3 linked regions of the Homo sapiens genome follow. The protein of the gene in region 2 purifies or fractionates together with the protein of the main gene of each other region. This does not show direct contact. Each region holds a gene or a part of one and is shown on either strand. Other genes may lie near its edges.

Region 1 (3,653 bases), on a different chromosome or scaffold from region 2:
AAAAATACTACATACTCATCATAGAAAATGTAGAAAAAAATAGACAAAAAAGATTTGTCCATCGTCCTGCCATCCAGAGGCAATCACTATTAACATTTGTTGAACTGCATTCTAGTCTTTTTCTTTTTTACAACACCGTGACTGTTCTGTTCATGTAAATGCTGTACCCTGATGCATTCCTCCCGCGCACAGAGTAGGCCAGTTGATTTGATGCAATAATGGGCTTGGTCACTATATACTTATATATGCGACTGGCGGATCCACAGTTTAGACAGCTCCATCACACTGGAAAGCTCAATTCTTTTTCTTTTAGAGACAGGGTCTCGCCATCTTGCCCAGGCTGGTCTTGAACTCCTGAGCTCAACCAATCTGCCTGCCTTAGCCTCCCCAAGTGCTGGGATTACAGGGATGAGCCACCACGCCTGGCCAAAACTCAATTCTTCTTTTTTCTTTCTTGCTCTGTTGCCCTGGCTGGAGTGCAATGGCGCGACCTTGGCTCACTGCAACCTCCGCTTCCAGGTTCAAGTGATTCTCTTGCCTCAGCCTCCCGAGTAGCTGGGACTACAGGTGTGCGCCACCATACTTGGCTAATTTTTGTATTTTTTAGTAGAGACAGGGTTTCACCATGTTGACCAGGTTGGTCTGGAACTCCTGACCTCAGGTGATCCACCCGCCTTGGCCTCCCAAAGTGCTGGGATTACAGGCACGAGCCACCATGCCCGGCCAAAAGCTCAGTCCTTTAATCAAAGTGTCTAATAAGTTTCACTAACTGTTCTTGGGATATTAAAAAACAATGAGCTTGACCTGTGTGGCCATCACGGCCCTCTGCGAAGCACAACCGCCAAAAGCCCTGGCCGTGGGTGGAACAGAACCCCTGGGCCCCATCCTGGCTGGACCGCGGGGGAGTTTCAGAATCTTGGGTAAGCCATGCCATCTTTCTGGGTCTCAGTTTCCTCGCTTGTAAGCTGTGAAGATGGACTGGAGCATGGCTACGTCCCTTCCAGCCTAAGGTTCCGTGCAGGAAAGGCCTGAGGCTGCCATCCTTGGAAAGACCTGCCTGCAAAGGTGGTGGCTGGCACCAGGGAGCTGGGATTTGGGGAGGGTTCCTGCCATTCCTTGATAAGAGCGGCTCACACTGCCTACACTGTCTAAATAAGGAGGTTTACGCTGAATACCCGCTTTCCTGCTGGAAGTCTGGAATTTAGGCACGTGCTGGGCAGAGGCGGGAGACCTGAACAGCCCCTAATACAAGCCTGGACACCGAGACTTTAATGAGCTTCCCTGGTAGGCAGCATGTTACAAGTGTTGTCACCACTCACTGCTGGAGGAATTAAGCCCATCCCGTGTGACTCTACCGGGAGAGGACTCTTGGAAGCTGGTGCCGGCTTCCTCCAAACGTCAACTCACACACCCTTCCCTTTGCTGATTCTGCCTTATGTCTTTTCGCTGTAATCACAGCGGTGAGAGAGCAGATTGCGGAGTCCTGAGTCCACCTGGGGCTGGTCTTGGGAGCCCTGATACGGGCTTTGTGACTCAACGCCTATGACCAGGAACCAAGAGTCCTCAGTGGGAAGACACCCTGTGCTTCACTGACTCATTTCGTGAACTGCTATTGAAACAGATGACATTACATATCCTACATCTCAAGTACTAAGCAAAATAACCATTTGTTACGATGATGACTCAAACATATTTCTGTCCAGCTCCATGAGCCCTCTGGTTGATTGTAAATAGAGCAGGAAGAGAATATGGACTGGGGGAAGGTTTTGTGAGCCCCGCTCGTTGGGTTAGGAGTTGACCTTTCTTTTGGTTTCTCAAAGTGGTGACACCAAGAACAGTCCCCTTTAGGAGCAGGTGTCACCAAGGTCTAACATCCCCATTATGTGCAGGGGGTGTTTCCAGTCTCTGTGGTGGAAATGGGAGACTGTATCTGGGCTTCTCAATCAGTTATCGCTTGTACAGCTCACTCTAATCTGCGGGAGCCGGAGCCAGCAGCACAGCTGACTCGAGACGGGCGCAGGCCAGGCCCCTCCAGGCAGAGGAGGGACAGCAGCACATGGGCTAGTGCCAGAGGGAGAGGAAGGCAGAGCACAGCGTTTGCTTTCCACCTTTGCTTCCAAGGAAGAAAAGCCATCACACACAGCATGTGCACTCAGAAACCAAGGGGGCTGCCTCGCAACAGAAGGCATCTGTAAGAAACAGGTACGAGGACAGCTTCCCAGCTAGAATGTGTGTTTCCTATTTTAATACCAAAGGAACAAAGGAGCCGATCCTATTCCTAAATTCAAATAGCAAAGATCCACTTCAAAAAGAAGAATTTCTTTTTCTTTTCTTTTTTTTTTTTTGAGATGGAGTCTTGCTCTGTCCCCCAGGCTGGAGTGCAGTGGTGCGATCTAGGCTCACTGCAACCTCTGCCTCCCGGGTTCTAGCAATTCTCCTGCCTCAGCCTCCCGAGTAGCTGGGATTACAGGTGCCCGCCACCACGTCCAGCTAATTTTTGTATTTTTAGTAGAGATGGGGTTTCACAAACATGTTGGTCAGGCTGGTCTCGAACTCCTGACCTCAGGTGATCCACCTGCCTCAGCCTCCCAAAGTGTTGGGATTACAGGCGTGAGCCACCACACCTGGCTCAAAAAGAGGCATTTCATGTGACTAAATGCAGGAGTTAATTTATAAGTCATAAATGGAAGTTAGAGTAAAATACAGTGTAATCCGTTATCATGGAGAAGAGGGATTGAAAAACTGAAAAAAATAGAAAGCAAACATCACTTGCAGTCCTAACCAGCCAAACGTGGCTTCGGTTGACACTTTGGTATATTTCAGTGCCATTTAAAATCTGCCCCTAGGGAGGTGGTCAGGTCGGGGGAGAGGGGGTCAGCAGCGGTGGGGTTGGAGGGCTTCTGGGGTAGTGGTAATGCTCTACTTCTTGGTCTGGGTGGTAGTTAAATGGGTGTGTTCTCTGGTGAAAATGCACTGAGCTGTCCTTTTATGATCAGGTACTCTTCTGTGCATACTGACATACACATCAATAAAAGGTTAAAAAAAGATGCTAGGTGCTTTACTTTTAAGTACTAAAGCTGTAATCATCACTCATTCATTATATCCTAAGTATAAATCTTGTACATATTTTTACTATATATAAATACCTAGTTGTACCTATAGTACATATATAGTTTCACCTAGTAAATGAAAATCTTAAATGTTTTCCATATTTACTGCATTTTAACAGTTGTATTATTTGAGTAAATGTATAATCAGTTAATTTATTTATTATTGACAACTACAGTTGCTAATGAATCTTTTTTTTATTTTATTTTATTTTTTGAGACAGAGTCTCACTCTGTCGCCCAGGCTGGAGTGCAGTGGCCGATCTTGGCTCACTGCAACCTCCGCTTCCCAGGTTCAAGCAATTCTCCTGCCTCAGCCTCCCAAGTGGCTAGGATTACAGGTGCCCACCACCACCCCAGCTAATTTTTGTATTTTTAGTAGAGACGGGGTTTTGCCATGTTGGCCAGGCTGGTCTTGAACTCCTGATCTCAGGTGATCCACCTGCCTTGGCCTCCCAAAGTGCTGGAATTACAGGCATGAGCCAACGTGCCTGGCCTTTTTTTTCTGAGACAGAGTCTTGCTGTGACAACCAGGCTGGGGTGCAA
Region 2 (3,653 bases):
CTGCCAGGAAGAAAGACTACTGCAGCACAGATGCAAATCTGGAAGCCACGTGACACTCACTGACTTGGGTGTCCGGGTATATGAATATCTGTTACCATTTGGAGTTTTTTGGTTTTTGTTTTGGTTAGAACAGTAGGATGAATCAAAATAATGGCAACTACTTCTTAGGAAACAAAACCCCAGGCCACCATCGCAGGACTCAGAGTACCTTGGAAGAGCAACAGCCTAGGAAGATTCTGACCTGCAGGAAGAGCGACTGTGCCGTCTCACTGGGCCACATCGCTACCACTCACCACCCATCAAAGGGCACCAAGCTGGAAAACAGGGGCTGTGCAAATGATTTCTTTTTCTTTCAGACAATCATCTGTGCTTTACGTTGTTTTAAACATGTTTAAGGGGAGAGAGAACAAGTTGTATTAAGAGTGTTTAAAACAAATTGTCTTTTTTCTACCTTGATCCACTTTCCCCTTTCCCTGTAAGCATTTACCTACTTTGTATTTAGTCTGTGGTCATTTAAATGGCATTTGGTTTAAGAGGTGTCCAAGAACAGGGACTCTGGCAACATTTCCATTGCATAAAGAGCCATTTATCACAATAAAATAAAATTAAAATTCTACAGATAATACTAAAAATTGTGGGTGCCTTTAATTAAGGGAATTGTTTCTAAAGATATTGATTATGATATAGAACACATGCATTCCTCAGCAAAGATTTGAGTGCCCAATTGTTAGCCAAAGACTAAATTGGGATTCAGTAAGTAAATTAGGTAAAAATTTGGTCAGAAAAATTATAAAATATAAACACAAAGTTTTGGGTTTTGGTTTTGGGGGATTTTGTTTGTTTTTTACAAAAAGCAACATCTGAATCTTGCAATTCAAAGTATAGTTTGCAAACCAGCAGCATCAGCATCACCTAGGAGGTTGTTAGAAATGATGCATCTCAGGACCCACCTCAGATCTGTAGAATCTGAACCTGCGTTTTAAAAAGATGCCCAGGTGAGTCTGGGCGTGGTGGCTCACTCCTGTAATCCCAGCACTTTGGGAGGCCAAGGCAGGTAGATCATCTGAAGTCAGGAGTTCAAGACCAGCCTGGCCAATATGGTGAAACCCTATCTCTACTAAAAATACAAAAAATTAGCTGGACATTGTGGGGGCATCTGTAATCCCAGCTACTCAGAAGGCTGAGGCAGGAGAATCGCTTGAACCCAGGAGGCAGAGGTTGCAGTGAGCCGAGATAGTGCCATTGTACTCCAGCCTGGGCAACAAGAGTGAAACTCTGTCTCAAAAAAAAAAAAAAAAAATGCCCAGATGATTGGAATGCACATACAAGTTTCCAAAGCACTGCTCTAGAAGAAAGCATATATATTAAGAAAGGTCTGCTTTGTCTCTCCATGTATTCCACAGACTTATGCAGTAGAATTAATAATAATCCAAATTACTAACAACTTACTCATGGCTAAGACTAAACAGTCTCATTTGGAAGGTGCTTTAATTGAGCTAATTCCTCCTCTTGGCAACAACTCCACAATTCTAAATAACATCATAGGTAAAATGGCATGTGAACACTAAATGTAATTTGAGGCAGTTGCCTCAAATTTTCCCCAAAAAAATACAGGAATAAAAAGAATTCCCATATTTCCTTTTGGATGAGTGTTTACTTATGATAATAAGATCTTGATTCAATATATACATTAACATTCTCATTTTCTAATGCTGTGCTCCTTTCTCCCAACACCCCACCCCCAAAGGAGCTTTTAACTCCCCAGTCCCTGTCCTGAACCACTGAAGGGAAACTCAAAAATACTTTGTTCCTCTACAAGGAGCTAAGAATCGAAGCTTTAACTTGCTTCAGGACAGTACAAAATGCTACCATAAAAATATGAAAGCCTAATATCTCCTATACACATGTGATGTCATGTTTACTGCGTGAGACAGTCTGTTATTCTCTGATTGTCTCATACATGTTAGGTCCATTTCCTCCGTAAGTAACATGAGGATCAGGGCCATACTCCAAATTGCCTTTGTTTATATAATAGCAATGTAGGCATTCAATAAAACAGTAGCTTCTGGTTGATTGTCATAACTCCTATGACATACAGTAACTCTTGTCTTTAATAATAATAACTATTATTATTATTATGCTAACTAACACATATGCTCCAGGTATTGATTTAAGCGTATTATACTTACCCATTAAGTCCTTTTAAGGACTGTAAGGTGGTTACCCTTGTAAAAATAAGTAATGCAAAATCTAAGCTGTTGGAACTCAAAAGTATTTTGAGCCTTCAAGGAATGTGAATTACAGGGCCTGAGCTACGTGACAGGCAGCTGTAAGCTGTTGTATGTCTGAATTCAGTCTTTTTCCTTACCTGCATTGCTCTGTAAAATGTTGTAAATGGCAAAGGGCCCCAGGGAAGACCCCCTTCTCTCTTCCTGTTGATTTTCATTCTCCCTCTTACCTTTTTCATACAAGACATCATGGCTATCACAGTCCCTTAATATGGAATGTTAAATACACTCTTTTAAGTTGGAAAGGAAATGAAAACCAGCTATAAAGAAAACAAGCCGCGTGGAAAAGAAAACAAATTGTAACTAATTTTTTTAACTACTAAACCAGGCTTGTATACAAAATGTTGTAACCCTGCTAAATTTCTTTGTCTTATATATAAGCAAGAATTTAGCTTTTAACTTTGGAACCCTATCCCCATTTCTCTGGAGTGATGAGTCCCGGAATGGCCATTGCCAACTTTTCACTTGAATAAACTCTGGAAAACTGGAATCTGACCCTTTTGATTATTTATGGCTGGTACTCTCTTCATTTTACAAATGAGGAAACTGAGGCACAGAATACATAAGTAACTTGTCCAAAATCACACAACTAAAAAGTGTTAACTGGGGATATCAATCTGGGTGGTCTGACCAGAGATCTACTGTGCATCCTGCCTCATGTAAGTTCTAAAATTCAATTTCAGCTTTTCCTTCTGAGAAATCCCACTATTACCCCCTAAGAATTACATAAAATAGTAACTTTTGAACTTGTTTTTCCCATAATCCACAGTAAGAATTATGTTTTGCATCCTAGCACAGAGATACAAATTGCAACAAATAATTCATGGGAAAGCAAAACTCATCCTTATATATGACTTCTTAATATTATCTATTCTATTTCATTCAATTATAATTAATTTTCTACTAAACTAATTCTAGGGCCCAAATTGTCGCAGCCTTCAGTTTGAAAAACTGTTTAAAGCAGTATCCCACTCAATTCCTGACATTTAATAATGCAATGTATCTTCTGGCTGCCCATGCAAAGATGAAGAAGGCCTGGTCATGACCATTAACTACAGTGCACTGGCAAAATTCTGTGGGGTGTCTCTGAGTGTGTGTGTGTGTGTGTGTGTGTGTGTGTGTGAAAGAGAGAGAGAGACAGAGAGAGAGAGAGAGAGAGAGACCGAGAGAGAGAGACAGAGAGAGAGAAAAAATGGGGTCTCCCTCTGTCACCCAGGCTGGAGTACAGTGGCACAATCATAGCTCACTCCAACTTCGAACTCTTGGGCTCAAATGATCCTTCCATCTCAGCCTCCCAAGTATCTAGGACTACAGATGTGTGCCACTGCACTGGTTAATTTTTTTACTTTTTAAAAGAATTTTTTT
Region 3 (3,653 bases), on a different chromosome or scaffold from region 2:
GGCTCTGCTTTTACTCCTCCCATGTTCTTTCAAGATCCAGAAGAGGATGTCACTGACCATGCCCACATCAGGAACACCGTTCCAGGAAGAGAGAGAAGAGTGAGGTCCAGAGGCTGACTGGGTGAGAAATAACAGCTCCTGTTCATTCAGCCCAAGGGAAGTCACCGCGGGAAAGACCTGCTAACAAAAACAACAACAGGTATCTTTCTGATGGAGATAACCTGGCTCCTAAGATGTCTTATGACACAGCCAGTGACTAAATGACAGGGAACACAGGCAGGCAGCTTTCTTCCTTGATACAGGACTCCCTGGCCCTGAAGTCACTGTTTTAGCTATCACACCCCTATCTTCACCTTCATCATCATTTGGGAGAAACTGGAAAGCTGCAGTAACATTGTTTCAGATGCAGTCTTTTGTGATATGCCACTGTAAGACAAAAGGCAGAGGTGTCTATATTTTGTGTTTCTTTCCATGGTCCCTAGCTTTTGCCACTGCACACATAGGAGATACTCTTACCACTGATGGGGCATGGCTCTCAGTTCCTGAATGTCAGCAGTATTAGACCAGTAAAATGGAGACCTCAAGCAACATACTGTCAGGGTTATAATGATTTTTTTTATACAAAACACCAAGAAGCAAAAAGCATACAGTTTCATGTTAGAGCTAAGCTTTTTAAAAGCAGGTGTGGGTTAGGAAGACTGTCTGAATTTAGCAATAACACTGTAAGAAAAAGATTACCAAACAGGTGCCCGTGTTTTCTGTCTGATGGGGAACCACAATATCCACCTCCCTGTCTTTCTTACTTAGCACTTCCCTCCTTAGAACCAGAGAACCACACTTAAGGTAACAATTTTTGCAGGAGAGAGGAGTCCTTGTATGTATGTGTGCATGTATAAAATGGTTTTAAAAATTTAATGGCCTACATCTTTGTTGGAGCAATAGCAGCTTTCCTTCACTGCATGTTCTTCTGTGTCAGGCACTGAGCTAAAGGCTTTATTTCATCCAATTCTTACTGTAATCTTCTGAGGGAAGGAGGGACTGCCTCCATTGTACAGACTAAGCCTCAGAAGGGTTAAGTAGACAGTTACAGAGAAAATGAAATAGAAATGGCTCATTTTTTTAAAGGTGAGAAGAAAAACCCAAACAAAAGCTATACTGAAAAACACCAAGAGTGAACCCAAGTGTAAACTATGGACTTTGGGTGCTGATGACGTGCCTGTGTAGGCTCACTAGCTTAACAAATGTACCACTCTGGTGCAGGCTGCTGGTAGTTGGGGAGGCTTGTGTGTGAGGGGACTGGAAGTATATGGGAACTCTCTTGGATTCTGCTCTATTTTGCTATGCACCTAATATTACCATAAAAAAAAAATGAAGTCTATCAAAAAAAAAAAAAACAAAACCAACGACAGTCAGCCCTCCATATCCATGGCTTCAACCAACTTCAGATGGAAAACAGAGTATTCAAGGATGTGGAACCTGCAGATAGGGAGGGCCAACTTGTCTAATCCACAGATTCCACAGGGCCAACTGCAGGACTTAACCATCTGCAGATTCTAGTATCTGGGAAGGGTTCTGGAACCGCCCCCGCCGCCCCACACACCGCTGATGACGAGGGATGACTGTATACTGAAATACCATTTTTTCATCTGTCAGACTGATATAAATGCAAATTTTAACATTCTGGTAGCAAGGATATGAGGGAACAAGTATTTGTAATTATTGCCAGTGGGAAGTAAACTGGTATAATTCTTATGGAGGGCAATCTGGCAATCTCAAAATTACAAGTGCTTTTTTATGCTCCAGTCCAGCTGTTCTACTTCTGAGACTTTCTCCTAAATATGGACTTGTTCACAGGCAAAACAAAATCATGTATCAAGTTGTTCACTGCAGCACTGTGTGTAACAGCAAAGGGCAGTAAATAACCAATATGTCCATCCAGAAGGTTCAGGTTAAGTAAACGGAGGTACATCTACACATTCATTTTAACCATATGGCTATGAAAAGACAGAGGATACTCTCCATGTTAGTGATGCAGGAAGATCTCCAAGATATATTTAGTGAAAAAAAGAGCAAAGTGAAGAACAGAGTATTCAGTAGGCTATGCTATCTTTTTGGGTAAAAAGGGATGGAAAACAAAATCAGGATATATTTCTGTATTTTCTTATACTTGTACAAAAGAACTCTGGAAATAAACTGATGAAGGGTGCAAGTAGGGAAGGGGAGGAAGTAGAAGGGAGACTTCATTGTATATCTTTTCATAGTTTTTGGGTATTTTTTAACCAAATGAATATATTACCAATTAAAATTAGGTAACACTAGATTGCCAGGTGAGGTAACTTGCCTGAGTTCATGAAGCCCGTGAGTGCAAGGCTGGCATGCGAACCCAGGTCTCCAGAGCTTGTGTTCTGAAGCTTCACCTGCTCAGATTTATACTAGTCAATGCTGCTGCCCAGAGGCAGGCACTGAACACCCAGATGCCTGAGGAAGGAGGGAGGTTCCCTCAAAGTTTCTTTGCTTTGAGCTTCTTGAAGTTCAACTGAAAGCAGCTGAGCTGGGCTTTCAGTTTTTTCCATTCACTTTCAACTTTTCCATTCCAGAGGAGAAATATGATCAACAATCTGTCAGTTACACTGCCATAACTTTAACCTAGTAGGAGATACTGCTGTTTCAGAACAGTCCTGGATCCTTATTTGGATCTCCATGGACTTGGGTCTGAGTGACACAAACCTACATGTCAGTGAGCCAGTCCCTGAGCCCAAACAGATGGTCCCACTGCACAAAAAAGCTTCTCTGCAAGGCTCTATGAGGATCAGGGCCAAACGATGGTCCCATGAGGTTACCTGATGGACAATGCTGCTCATGAGCTCCCTGTTAGTCATACTGGCCAGCTCTAGGTGAACTGGAATACCAGTGGGGATGTCAGAAATGGAGGTTACAACCTGCAAAGAGAAGAAGATAAGCACTGCCATTAGAAATAGAAGGAAGTCAAGAAAGAGGGAAGAAAAGATCAGATCCTGAGAGGCGGTTCCTCCTGGTAATGGCCTTCTTTGCATGCTCACGGGAGCTACAAGCAATGTGGGTCCCCACCACCTCTGTGGACAAGGGACACTCTTCCCACCAGGGAAGACTAGGCTGTGCAGAGCCATCAGGGATACAGAATCAGAGATGGCAGTTCACTTCGACTGCTGTACGAATCTGTAGGAGTTGCAGCATAGCTGATGTGAAGTGAGATGATACAAATAACACAAAGGACACAAACTACAAACCCTGCAGCTTGCAGCCATGGTCGGTTTAGCACAGGATGCAGAGGCTCAGGCAAGAAGATGTTCTGCCCTGTCCTACTCAAGCTGCTGCCCACATCTGAAGGGATACAGTGAGGTGCCTCACTGCAGCAGGAGGCAAGCTCCACAGCCAGCTGCCAAGATATGTCCCTGGGAGGCCAGGACCTAAGACAAGGCAGCAGATGCCAAGAGAGGCTGGAACCTGAAGAAAACCACCAGCTGAGATCTGTGAAATTCTGTAACAGTGCCATTACCTCCAAGAGTCTCTTCCTCTGGAGCTCCTTGCTTTGTCCCTCCATCATGTGCAATCCAGAGAGGACCACCAGGTCTGGCTGAAACTCCTCCAGGCTAGACACAAACACCTCCAGCATA

What was found.
Region 1: the proteins of SLC30A10 (region 2) and ADCY9 purify together in Homo sapiens (affinity purification with mass spectrometry; one large-scale study listed by BioGRID and IntAct). This does not show direct contact.
Region 3: the proteins of SLC30A10 (region 2) and ADPGK purify together in Homo sapiens (affinity purification with mass spectrometry; one large-scale study listed by BioGRID and IntAct). This does not show direct contact.

What each region holds. Positions count from the first base shown.
Region 1 is NC_000016.10:3,969,903-3,973,555, forward strand, and holds part of ADCY9 (adenylate cyclase type 9), read right to left. Parts: intron 1-3,653. UniProt on the Homo sapiens protein: Adenylyl cyclase that catalyzes the formation of the signaling molecule cAMP in response to activation of G protein-coupled receptors.
Region 2 is NC_000001.11:219,918,495-219,922,147, forward strand, and holds part of SLC30A10 (calcium/manganese antiporter SLC30A10), read right to left. Parts: intron 1-3,653. UniProt on the Homo sapiens protein: Calcium:manganese antiporter of the plasma membrane mediating the efflux of intracellular manganese coupled to an active extracellular calcium exchange.
Region 3 is NC_000015.10:72,752,716-72,756,368, forward strand, and holds part of ADPGK (ADP-dependent glucokinase isoform 4 precursor), read right to left. Parts: coding exon 3,536-3,653; intron 2,940-3,535; coding exon 2,841-2,939; intron 427-2,840; coding exon of another isoform or gene 400-426; exon of another isoform or gene 354-399; intron 181-353; coding exon 1-180. UniProt on the Homo sapiens protein: Catalyzes the phosphorylation of D-glucose to D-glucose 6-phosphate using ADP as the phosphate donor. GDP and CDP can replace ADP, but with reduced efficiency.